Regions from separate parts of the Homo sapiens genome. Here region 1 is linked to region 2. Evidence: fine-mapped expression QTL. Tissue or cell type: whole blood. Region 2 holds a variant in brackets; the other region holds the start of a gene. All regions are shown on one strand. Distances are between the middles of the regions.

Region 1 (5,154 bases), 51 kb after region 2:
AGGAAAAACTATACAACCATATGAAAAGATGTTAGAAATGAACCATATTCAGGACAATTTATTAACAGAGAAGAATACCATGCTTGTAGAAAAGTTAAGATTTAACATTACAAAGGTGTCAATTATCTCCAAGCTGGTCTACAGATTTAATGTAGTTCCAATCAAAACCCCAATAAAGTTTCTCATGGAACCTTCTAAGCTAGTTCTAAAACTTACAGTGGAGAGTAAGGTGCCAAAATAAAAAGCCAGGACCCAGGTACATGCATCTGTCAAAACTCATCAAATTGTACACTGTAAATCTACAACAGCAGGGAGAGGTGACCTGCCCTACTAGGTATGGGCGCTTATCAAGGAACTGTAGTAATTAAGACAGCACCGATCAGGCACACAGATGGATCAAGTGGCCCCTAATAATGAAGAGCCCAGGCTGAGGTCTCCAGACATCTCACCGCTCCCCTTGCTCTCTTGTGCTTCAGCCATCATCTTGAGAACACTCCCTAACTAACCGCACGAGGACAGGAGATGTGCGGAGCCAAGTGGAGTAGCCCCAACCATCCCAACTGAGCCCAGCCAAGGTCCACAGAGCTGCTCTCCTGACCTCCCGTGTGGGAGGAATACACTTGCTGCTGTACACCACTGAGGTCTGGTGTTTGGCCATTGATGCAGCATTTCTGGGGCAACAGATAACGGATAGGTCTGTGATGTTTATTCACTATTAAAAATAGACGAGTAAAAATAAGCCTTTGCATAGACCAGTGATGAGTGATTATGATTAATCCAATTTGATGCACCTGCAGTCCAAGAAAAATAAATAGAATATTTTGACCTGTTAAGCACAGTTTTCACTAATTTTTCCTTATCCTGTGTGCACGAAAGTCTGGACTCCTGCACCAAATTGTTGCAGAAATAAAGGGAAGCAAGAGACTCAACAGTTTAATCCATCGAGTGCTTACTGAATGAAGGGCTGACAGATGCACGTCCTTCACTAGATGCTGAGAACCAATATGAACAAAACGACACTCCTAGCCTCTAAGAGTTGGTAAGCAGGTAAGAGAAATAATTTAAATAATATTTTCATGAGCAGGCCTTGAACATTCTGACTCCTTCAGTAACTAACTTCCTATATGACTTCTTATAGCTTTTATCAACAACTAAGTTTAGCTTTTTTTTTTTAAAGATCAAATTTTAAACGCTTTTTAGTCAGTGCTGTCTCAAATCACTGGCAGGAATTGTGAAGTTCAAAGCAGAGAAAGGTCGTAGAATAGAATGGTGGTTATAAGACGCTGGGGGCTGGGGGAGGTGAGGAAGGAGGGAATGGGGAGTTGCTGATCAAAGGGTACAAAGTTTCAAACACACAGGAGACACAGCTTTTAAGACTTACTGCGCACTAGGATGCCAACAGTCAACAATAATTTACTACACATGTGTATTTCAAAATAACAAGACATTTCAAACATCTTACCACAAACAATAATAACTGAGAGAGGTGATAGATATGTTAATTAGCTTGATTTAACCACATTGCAATTGTATACACGGCTCAAAACATTACGCTGCACCCCATAAATGCACAGAGCGATTATATGTCTCAGGCATCAGGGCAGGTTGCTTCTAAACAGGGAACAACATGAGATCCCAAAGTTTCTTTTAAAGCCTAATCAGCAATTCCAATTTTCCTTTTTTCTTTTTTTTTTTTTTTTTTCCAGCAAGGTCTGGCTCTGTCCCCAAGGCTGGAGTGCAGTGGCGCCATCAAAGCTCACTGCAGCATCGACTTCCTGGTCTCCAGTGATCCTCCCACCTCAGCCTCCTGAGTAGCTGGGACCACAGGCGCGCACCCCCAAGCCCAGCTGATTTGTTCATTTTTTGTAGAAACAGGGTTTCGCCATGTTGACCTGGCTGGTCTTGAACTCCTGAGCTCAGGCGATCCTACTGCCTCGGCCTCCCAAAGTGCTGGGATTACAAGCCCGCACCCCACGCCCGGCCCCAACTTTTCTTTCTCTCTTTGCTGGAGAGGAGGCTTCGAGGTTCCCTGTTCCGGCCGAGTCCAGCGCCGCCAAGGCCTCCCCTCGGCATCCCCGCTCCAGTTCTGAGTAACTTCAAGGGCTCCGCCTCTCCACAGAGCAGCCCCGCCCAACGCCGCGGCCGCAGCCCCAGAGTCTGAGGCTTGGCTGCCGAGGTTCCCGCTTCTCCCAGAGAGCGCCTCGGCGGGCAGCACCGACTCCGTTTTAGGAAAGGCCGGGCCGGGCTGCTTGTGGGCGGTGGGCGGCCACCTCAGCAGCGCCTTTCCCGGGCGTCGGCCAGGCGGAGGGGAGGCCGCCGCACTTCTCCCCAGCCCCGGCCTGGGTCCCATCGGGCGCCCCCAAGTCCCGCGCTCCCCTAGGTCAGGCGCGCCTCCCTGCCCGCGACCGCGTCACCTTCCAGGAGCTGAGGCCCACGGCTGGGATATCTCCCATGGCCGCCGCCGGCCGCCCCGCCGCCCCGCCGCCCCGCACGCGACTACCGACAGGCACCGCGCGAGCTACTGCGGCGCTGGCGACCCGCCGTTGCGACTGGCTGGAAGTGCCTTGTGACGGCTGACACTCCGACAATGGCTGGAAGCATGAACGCAGGGCTTCCTGACTGGCTGCTGGTGTCGCGCGCCGGGCACTGACTGGCTGGTTGTATTAAGGACGGGCACCCCGATTGGCTGGAGGCGCAGAGCCAGCTGGAGTCCCAAATGGCTGGAAGCACCGCGCTCTGGACATCCTGATTGGCTGGCGGCATAGACGACGGAATTTTCGATTGGCTTGCAGAGCCACGCAGGAGCAGGGAAGGTTTTACAATCGGCTGGCATTGCCGCTCACGCCCCCACCTTAGGTGTGACCTCCTGGTTGCCTTCTCCCTCGCACCGGGTGCATATGCGACTGAGGGTAGGGCAGAGGTGCTAGGTTGATGGGCAGAGAGTCTTCACCGTTCCAGGGCCTCGCCATGGCCGGGCCATCCTAGGGCAAGCTCTAGGGTCAGGGTGCAGAGTCCTGCGTCCCCTGGGGCACAGGGTGCGCGGGAGTGGGTCCCCGCTCTCTTGTACCAAGGATGGCCATTCTCAGGTGCCCCGAGGCCCCCAGTCTGGGAGAAGCGTGCCTGGCCTTGGTTCCCCGTCAGGGAGCCACTGTGCCCTTGGAAAATGCCTTCCACTCCCTGGGTCCTGGCCCAGAGCGGCTGGGGCTTGCAGGACAGCGGGGGTCCTGGGTGGTGCAGGGGAGGCCGAGCCCTGCATGTAGAGGGGAGCGTCCTTGCTTGCAGCCTCGGGCCCCCGTTTGGAAGTGGATGGGGTGGACTGGACACCCCCCTTATGAGTGGACTGGGCTCCCCCAGGGCCAGTGGAGGGAAAGAGGGGTCAAGGGAGCCTTCCGACGCCCCTCTTATCTCTCCTGGAGCTTACAGCTCCCCCTTCATTGCCCCCCTCAGCCCTGGGAGTCCTACTGCCTTGAGGACACCCACACCCAGATGAGGGCTTTGTTTCTAGGTTCCTTGCCTGGGTCTTCAGTGCTGGCCATCAGGGGAGGCGCTGCCCATTCTGCTCAATGGGGCGGCTGCAGCCAGAGAAACTCCCAGGGTCACTCTGGGTGTCCCCCTGCCTCCCACCCAACTTGCATCTCCTGTGAGCATCCATCTCCTCAATGTGAGCTCCTCACAGGTGGGAAGGGGGATCTTCGATACTCTCATTTATTCATTCAGAAACTGTGCCTGGAGCACTCACCTGTGCACGGGGCAAGTTAGGCCAGGGTGCAGTGCTGAAAATGACCTGCATGGGCCTTGCCCTCAGGAGCTCACCATCTGTAGGAATGAATGGACAGAGCATAAAAGCAAATGCATGAGAAAAAAAAAGAGCAGGTGCTATAGTAAAATAAAGCAGGTGCTTGTGGTGAGAGGCGGAAGGGACAGAGTGAGGGAATCCTCAACACCTCAATGAAGTGGCATTTATGCTGCAAACAGAAAGGCAAAGAGTGAGGGAACCAGCCCTGCACAAGTCTGGGAACAGTATTCCTGGGGGAAGCTCTACTGCACTGCAATCGTGTATCATGCTATTTCATTGTTTTAACAGAAATTCCATAAGTCTATGACGTTGAGCATCTTTTACTCTGCTTCTTTGCTATCTGTATATCTTTGATAAGGTGTGTTTTCAGGTCTTTTGCCCATTTTTTATTTGGGTCATTCATTTTCTTATTGTTGGATTTTAAGAGTTCTTTGTGTATTTTGGATAAGAGTCCTTTATTAGATGTGTCTTTGTAAATATTTTCTCCCAGTCTGTCTGTAACTTGTCTTTTCATTTCCTTGACATTGTCTTTAGCAAAATAAAAAAATTTTTATTTTAACGAAGTGAGCTTATCAATTATTTCTTTCATGGCTCATCCCTTTGATGTTGTATTTTAAAAGTCATTGCAAAGACATAAGAATTATATAATGGACTTCGGGGACTCAGGGGGAAGGCTGGGAGGGGAGTGAGAGATAAAAGACTACACATTGGGCACAATGTACACTACTCTGGTGATGGGTGCACCAGAATATCAGAAATCACCACTAAATAACTTTTCCATGCAACCAAACACTACTTGTCGCCCCAAAACAATTGAAATAAAAATTAAAATTAAAAAATCAGAGACTAGACAGAAAAAAATTAAAATAAAAATTAGTAAATTAGAATATCCTGGAACACAGTAATCAATATAAAAAATAAAAATAAAAAAAATCACTAAACCCAAGATCATCTAGATTTTCTCTTATTTTCTAGAAGTTTCATAGTGTTGTGTTTTACATTTAGGCCTTCGATCCACTTTGAGTTAATTTTAATGAAGAGTGTGAGATCTGTGTCTGGATTTATTTTTTTGCATGTGGATGTCCAACATCATTTGTTGAAAAGACTGAAAGTTCTCCAGTGTATTGCCTTTGCTCCTTTGTCAAACATCAGCTTATTATATTTGTGGTGATCTATTTCTGTGCTATTTTGTTCCATTGATCCATTTGCCTGTTTCATAAATACCACACTGTCTTGATTACTGCAGTAGATTTATTGTAAGTCTTGAGGTCAGGTAGTGTGAGTCCTCTAACTTTGTTCTTTTCCTTCAATATTGAGTTATCTATTCTGTGTCTTTTGCTTCTTCATATGAACTATGG
Region 2 (5,154 bases):
TATGAGAACTCTGCATTTTTTTTCTCATTTTTTTCTGTAAACCTAAAACTGCTCAAAATAAAAGATCAGTGGATTCCAGGGACTCAGGGAGAGGGAAGGAGGAATGAATAGGTAAAATACAGAGGTTTTAGGGCAGTGAAACCATATTGTATGATCTAGTAGTGGTGGATACATATTGCAATGGTTAATATTGAGTGTCAACCTGACTGGATTATAGGATGCAAAGTATTGTTTCTGGGTGTGTCTGTGAGGGTGTTGCCAAGGGAGATTAACACTTGAGTCAATGGACTGGGAAAGGCAGACCCCCCCTCAATCTGAGTGGGCACCATCTAATCAGCTGCCAGCATGCCCAGAACAAAAGCAGGCAGAGAAAAATGGAAGGACTAGAATGTGCTGAGTCTTCTGGCCTCCATCCTTCTCATGTGCTGGATGCTTCCTGGTGTCAAACATCAGACTCCAGGTTCTTCAGCTTTGGGACTCTTGGACCTATACCAGTGGGTTGTCAGGGGTTCTCAGGCCTTCGGCCACAGACTGAAGGCTGCACTATCGGCTTCCCTACTTTTGAGTTTTTGGGACTCAGACTGGCTTCCTTGCTTCTCAGCTTGCAGACGGCCTATTGTGGGACTTCACCTTGTGATCGTGTGAGTCAATGCTCCTTAATAAGTTCCCCTTACATATACATCTATCCTATGAGTTCTGTCCCTCTAGAGAACCCTGACTAATACACATGACATACATTTGTCAAAACCCATAGAATGTACAATGGAGAGTGAACCCTGTGATAATGTATCAATATTGGTTCATCAATTGTAGCAAATGTTTCACACTAATACAACTTAAATAAGAGGAGAGAGTAGGGGTAAGGGTGGGTGGGAGAGGTGATATGGTGAACTCTGTGCTTTCCTATCAATGTTTCTCTTAACTTAAAACTGCTCTAAAAATTGTCTGCTAATTGTATTTTTTAAAGTACACTTGCCCCTTTTGTCTAGTGCTGAGCTGGTCCCTAGACTACCCATCCCATGGTGAAGGCAATGGTCTTGGCTCACATGTCACCCAGACAAGGGAGCAGAAAAAAATGGTTAAAATTCAGTGATGGATCCTGGTTTCTGACTTTCCATGTGCATGGAAGTGAGAAAAATGGAAACGTGGGATTATAGTGCCACTAAATACCTTCTGCAGCACAGAAACCTCTCTCACTAGTAATGTGTAAATGTAATAACACCAGTAACTTTTTTTCTGACTGAAAACAAGTAGCAATTTATTTCCCCTTGATGATAAAAGGGCCAGAAGCCTTTCCAAATCCCTTTCCCCATGGGACAAGATTGGAGCTTCGGGAAGTGTATGGGCACCATAAGTCTGAGTGGGGCCATTTGTTGGGGGAGGTAAGGAGCAAACAAAGATGTCACAATGTCCTGTGCTAGGAAAGAGGAAAACATTCTCATTCCTGCAGCCAAGGAATAACCTGATGAAAAACTGTTTCAAATTGGAGTGATGACTTCTTTGGAGAAATGCTTATGCAAGTTTTTTTTCCCCCATTTTTCAACTGGGTTATTTGTTTGTTTTTTTGCTATTGCATTGTAGATTTTTACATAGTTTAGATATTAACCCCTTATACCTGTTATTAACAGTATGCATACTTTAAAATATGTTTAAGATAGTTGATCTCATGTCAAGTGTTCTTGCAAAAAAAAAAAAATCCAAAAACTAAAACCAAAACCACACACAAAAGGACATAAGAAAATGTTTGGAGGTGATGGGCATGTTTAATGCATCGTTTGCAGTGATGGTATCACAGGTATATGCACATGCCCAAATCCATCCAGATGTATCCATTAAGTGTGTGCATGTTTTCATATAACAATTATACATTCATAAAGCCAAAAAATGTTGAGGGATGATTTATTGGCTATCAGGGGTTGCAGCAATGAACAAAATGGGAATACTCCTTAAAAATAAAGAATACTGAGATTAAATAACTAAGAAAGGCAGAAATTGCTGCTTGCTATACGTCAACAATAAATGAGCAAGAACCAAAGATGTCACCATGGTTTTCAGTCTGGAAGACTGAAATTCTCTTTTGGCCTTGTGCACAACCTGCCATCTAAGAGCACTGAGTTAATTATTTAATCAATACTGCTATGCCCTCCATGGGCTGTCATCCCAAGTAAAGCCCTTGGGAGCTTCATGCATACAGCTGTGGATGACAATCATGGCTTGGCCTGTGTTGCTGGTATTCTAAAAGATGT[C/T]TGATACCATGCAATGCAGCACTGCATGTCCCTGGTAAGCTTGGTGTTGGTGGTTCTGTAACCTAATTCTCCTGCTTGGCATTCTGCAGGTGGAATATCACCCTTACCTCAACCAAAGCAAACTCCTGGAGTACTGTAAGTCCAAGGACATTGTCATGACTGCATATTCTGCCTTGGGGTCTGACTCAGACAAAGACTGGTAATCATCTTCATAAAGTTATTTTGTTTATTTTTTTTAGGTGGGGGTCTCATTCTGTCATCCAGGCTGGAGTGCAGGGGCACAATCACAGCTTGTTGCAGGCTTGACCTTCCAGGCTCAAGTCAGGATCTTCCCTCCTAGACCTCCTAAGTAGCTGGGACTACAGGAGTGCACCACCATGCCTGGCTAATTGTTTATTTTCATTTTTGTAGAGACAGGGTCTCACTACGTTACCCAAGCCAGTCTTGAATTCCTGGGCTCAAGTGATCCTCCCACCTTGGCCTCCCAAAGTGCTGGGATTAGAGGTGTAAGCCACGGTGACTGGCCTATAAAGTTATTTTAATCATAGATACTGTACCTTCCGAAGTAATCTCTCAATCAGCTGGCAAAATTAAAAATAGACAGCAGGAATAAATTCATCTGTAAACCTTTTACCTAACCCAGACCTACATTATAAGAACTAAATAGAACTGCCACCTTCCATTCCTTTGTCCTTCTTTGGTTATAACAAAAGATGCAAAACAGATATTGAGACAGCCAGAAGGTAATGAGGAAGGTTCTGGAGGATTAGCATCCCTGGCCAAAATAAGCAGCCCGCAAGTAAAATGGATATTCAGCCTCAGACTTGCAGCACCTCTGCCTCTCCTCTCAGGGTGAAAAAAGGAAACCCAGTTCTCCAGGAGGATCCAATACTCAATGCCATTGCTGAAAAGCCCAGGCGAACTCCAGCCCAGGTTGCCTTGTGCTACCAGCTGCAGCGCGGGGTGGTGGTCCTGGTGAAGAGCTTCAATGAGAAGAGAATCAAAGAAAACTTCCAGGTACAGGGCATGGTGGTGGCAGCAGGGGATTGACAGAGGCACATCATTTCCCCACGGTATCTGAGTTTTTGCAAAGCTCTCAAGGTATATTTGGGCAAAGCTTATCTCCTTTTACATTCTATGCATATAAGCATATAAGCACCATATTTAATTGCTTTGTCTCCCCTTGCTGCAAGGGAGAGTGTGATGGTTGGAAAGGACACTAAAGAGAAGGTCAGGAGAGGGTCCTAATCCGGGTTTTTCCCCTATAGTATGGCGCTGGGTAAGTCATCCCTTGATTTCTATAGCTGTAAAATAAAGGAATTAGATCACGTGAGGTTTGGGCTTAAAATTCTCTAGGATTTCTTTGCTATCATGATGGCTCCCCAATAAAAGTATCTGAGGGAAGATTAACCATGCCAATCTCAACTTTATAAATGGACAAATTCCCATGACATGCCACTGAATGAATCCTTGGTCCATGAAAACTCACTCATAAAACCTACACAAAGTCCTACATGGATTTGTCTGTTTGTGGAGAGGGGAGAAGAGGAACAGCAATTGCCTCAAGGATATTAAATTGATCTTCTCACGTTTCTGACAGGTTTTTGACTTCTAGCTGACACCAGAGGACATGAAAACCACAGATGGCTTGAACAAGAATATATGCCATTTGTAAATGTCTATGTAAGTAGCTTGTTTCGTTGTTGACACTAGGGAGCAGGACAGTGGGGGAATTCCATTGATTTCAGCCCACAGAAGGCAGGGTTTGTTGCTTAGGAAAGTTGTTGGAAAACATTTTTTCTTCAGACTTCATATCAGACATTTTTTTTTCTCCAAGGCTCATAGCTCTGCCCAGACAAGAGTGTGAGCAGAACTCAATAGAGACGGAAGCTCCCCGTTTAAGACTGGGCTCTCCTGGCTCCACACTGCCTCTGTGTGTCCCTCATCACTAGGCTTCCCTCCAATCTACATGCTAATAATTCCATGGTTTCTATCTCTAACCTAGACATTTTTCTTGGTCTCTTGTAGCCCACTGATTTTCTTTTAAATTAAAATTCCCTAGAGATAGTTCTATTTATTCCCACAGTTCAAACTTAATACACTTAAAATTAAAGCCTTCAATGTTTTCTCTATATATACTCTTCATGGTAATACTACACACATCACCATTATGGCACAAACCTCATCCCCTACATCTAAATAACCACCTAGTCCTGTTGATTCTATATTTCAACATTTCTCATGTTGATTCTAAATTTCAACATTTCTCATGTTTCTCTAATTTCCATCACAAAGCCCACCCCCTCTGATTCAGGTTTTGAACCTGAATCAGCTCTCTTGCAAGGCTGGCCACAGGGGTGGATCTTCAGCTGTGGTTTCTGAACAATGTTCAGAACTTTGCTCAGGTCTGGGGGGGTTTTCAATAGTAAAGAGTAAGCAGGTTCGGAAAATCAAGAAGGAAAAAGGGAACAGGCTGAGTATCAAGCAAATGGAGGTGATAATGAAAATCCAATGGCAGGAAAAAAGTTATTTCCAAAGATAGACTTTTAATGGCCCTTCAAACTTTTAGACTCTATGATTCTCAGAAGGCTGTAGAGAAAAATCTGTAAGCTATTTTTTTTTCTGTTCAGTGACATTTAGTACATATATGTATGTAAACATCTCCAAACACGGGAAGAGCAAGCAATCCAGTAGCTCCTGGACAGACTCCCATCCTCCCCTGCCAACCAGCCCCTTAACTCCCTTGAGGCTAACATGGTCTTTGTCACTGTTAGTTCAGTCACTACAGGAGCCTAAAATTCCTGGTTCCCAAATAGCTCTGTGTACACCACCTCAACATGTTTTCACTGTGCTTTCTGAAACTCCTACTCAACCACTGGCAAAACCGTTTTATCTTTGTTGTCTTCTC

Evidence for each region. PIP is the estimated chance that this variant, and not a neighbour inherited with it, causes the effect.
Region 1: it holds the start of AKR1E2, and the variant in region 2 is fine-mapped to the expression of AKR1E2 in whole blood (INTERVAL, PIP 0.91).

What each region holds. Positions count from the first base shown.
Region 1 is chr10:4,823,624-4,828,777 of GRCh38, reverse strand. It overlaps AKR1E2 (aldo-keto reductase family 1 member E2), which reads right to left and starts at 2,571. Exons shown (of 10, transcript NM_001040177.3): 1 at 2,415-2,571. The coding sequence starts at 2,453. RefSeq lists a silencer at 2,065-2,144.
Region 2 is chr10:4,874,746-4,879,899 of GRCh38, reverse strand. It overlaps the pseudogene AKR1C6P. Among named protein-coding and RNA genes, the nearest start is that of AKR1E2, 51 kb to the right of the region's middle. The variant C/T (reference allele first, on the strand shown) is at 2,247.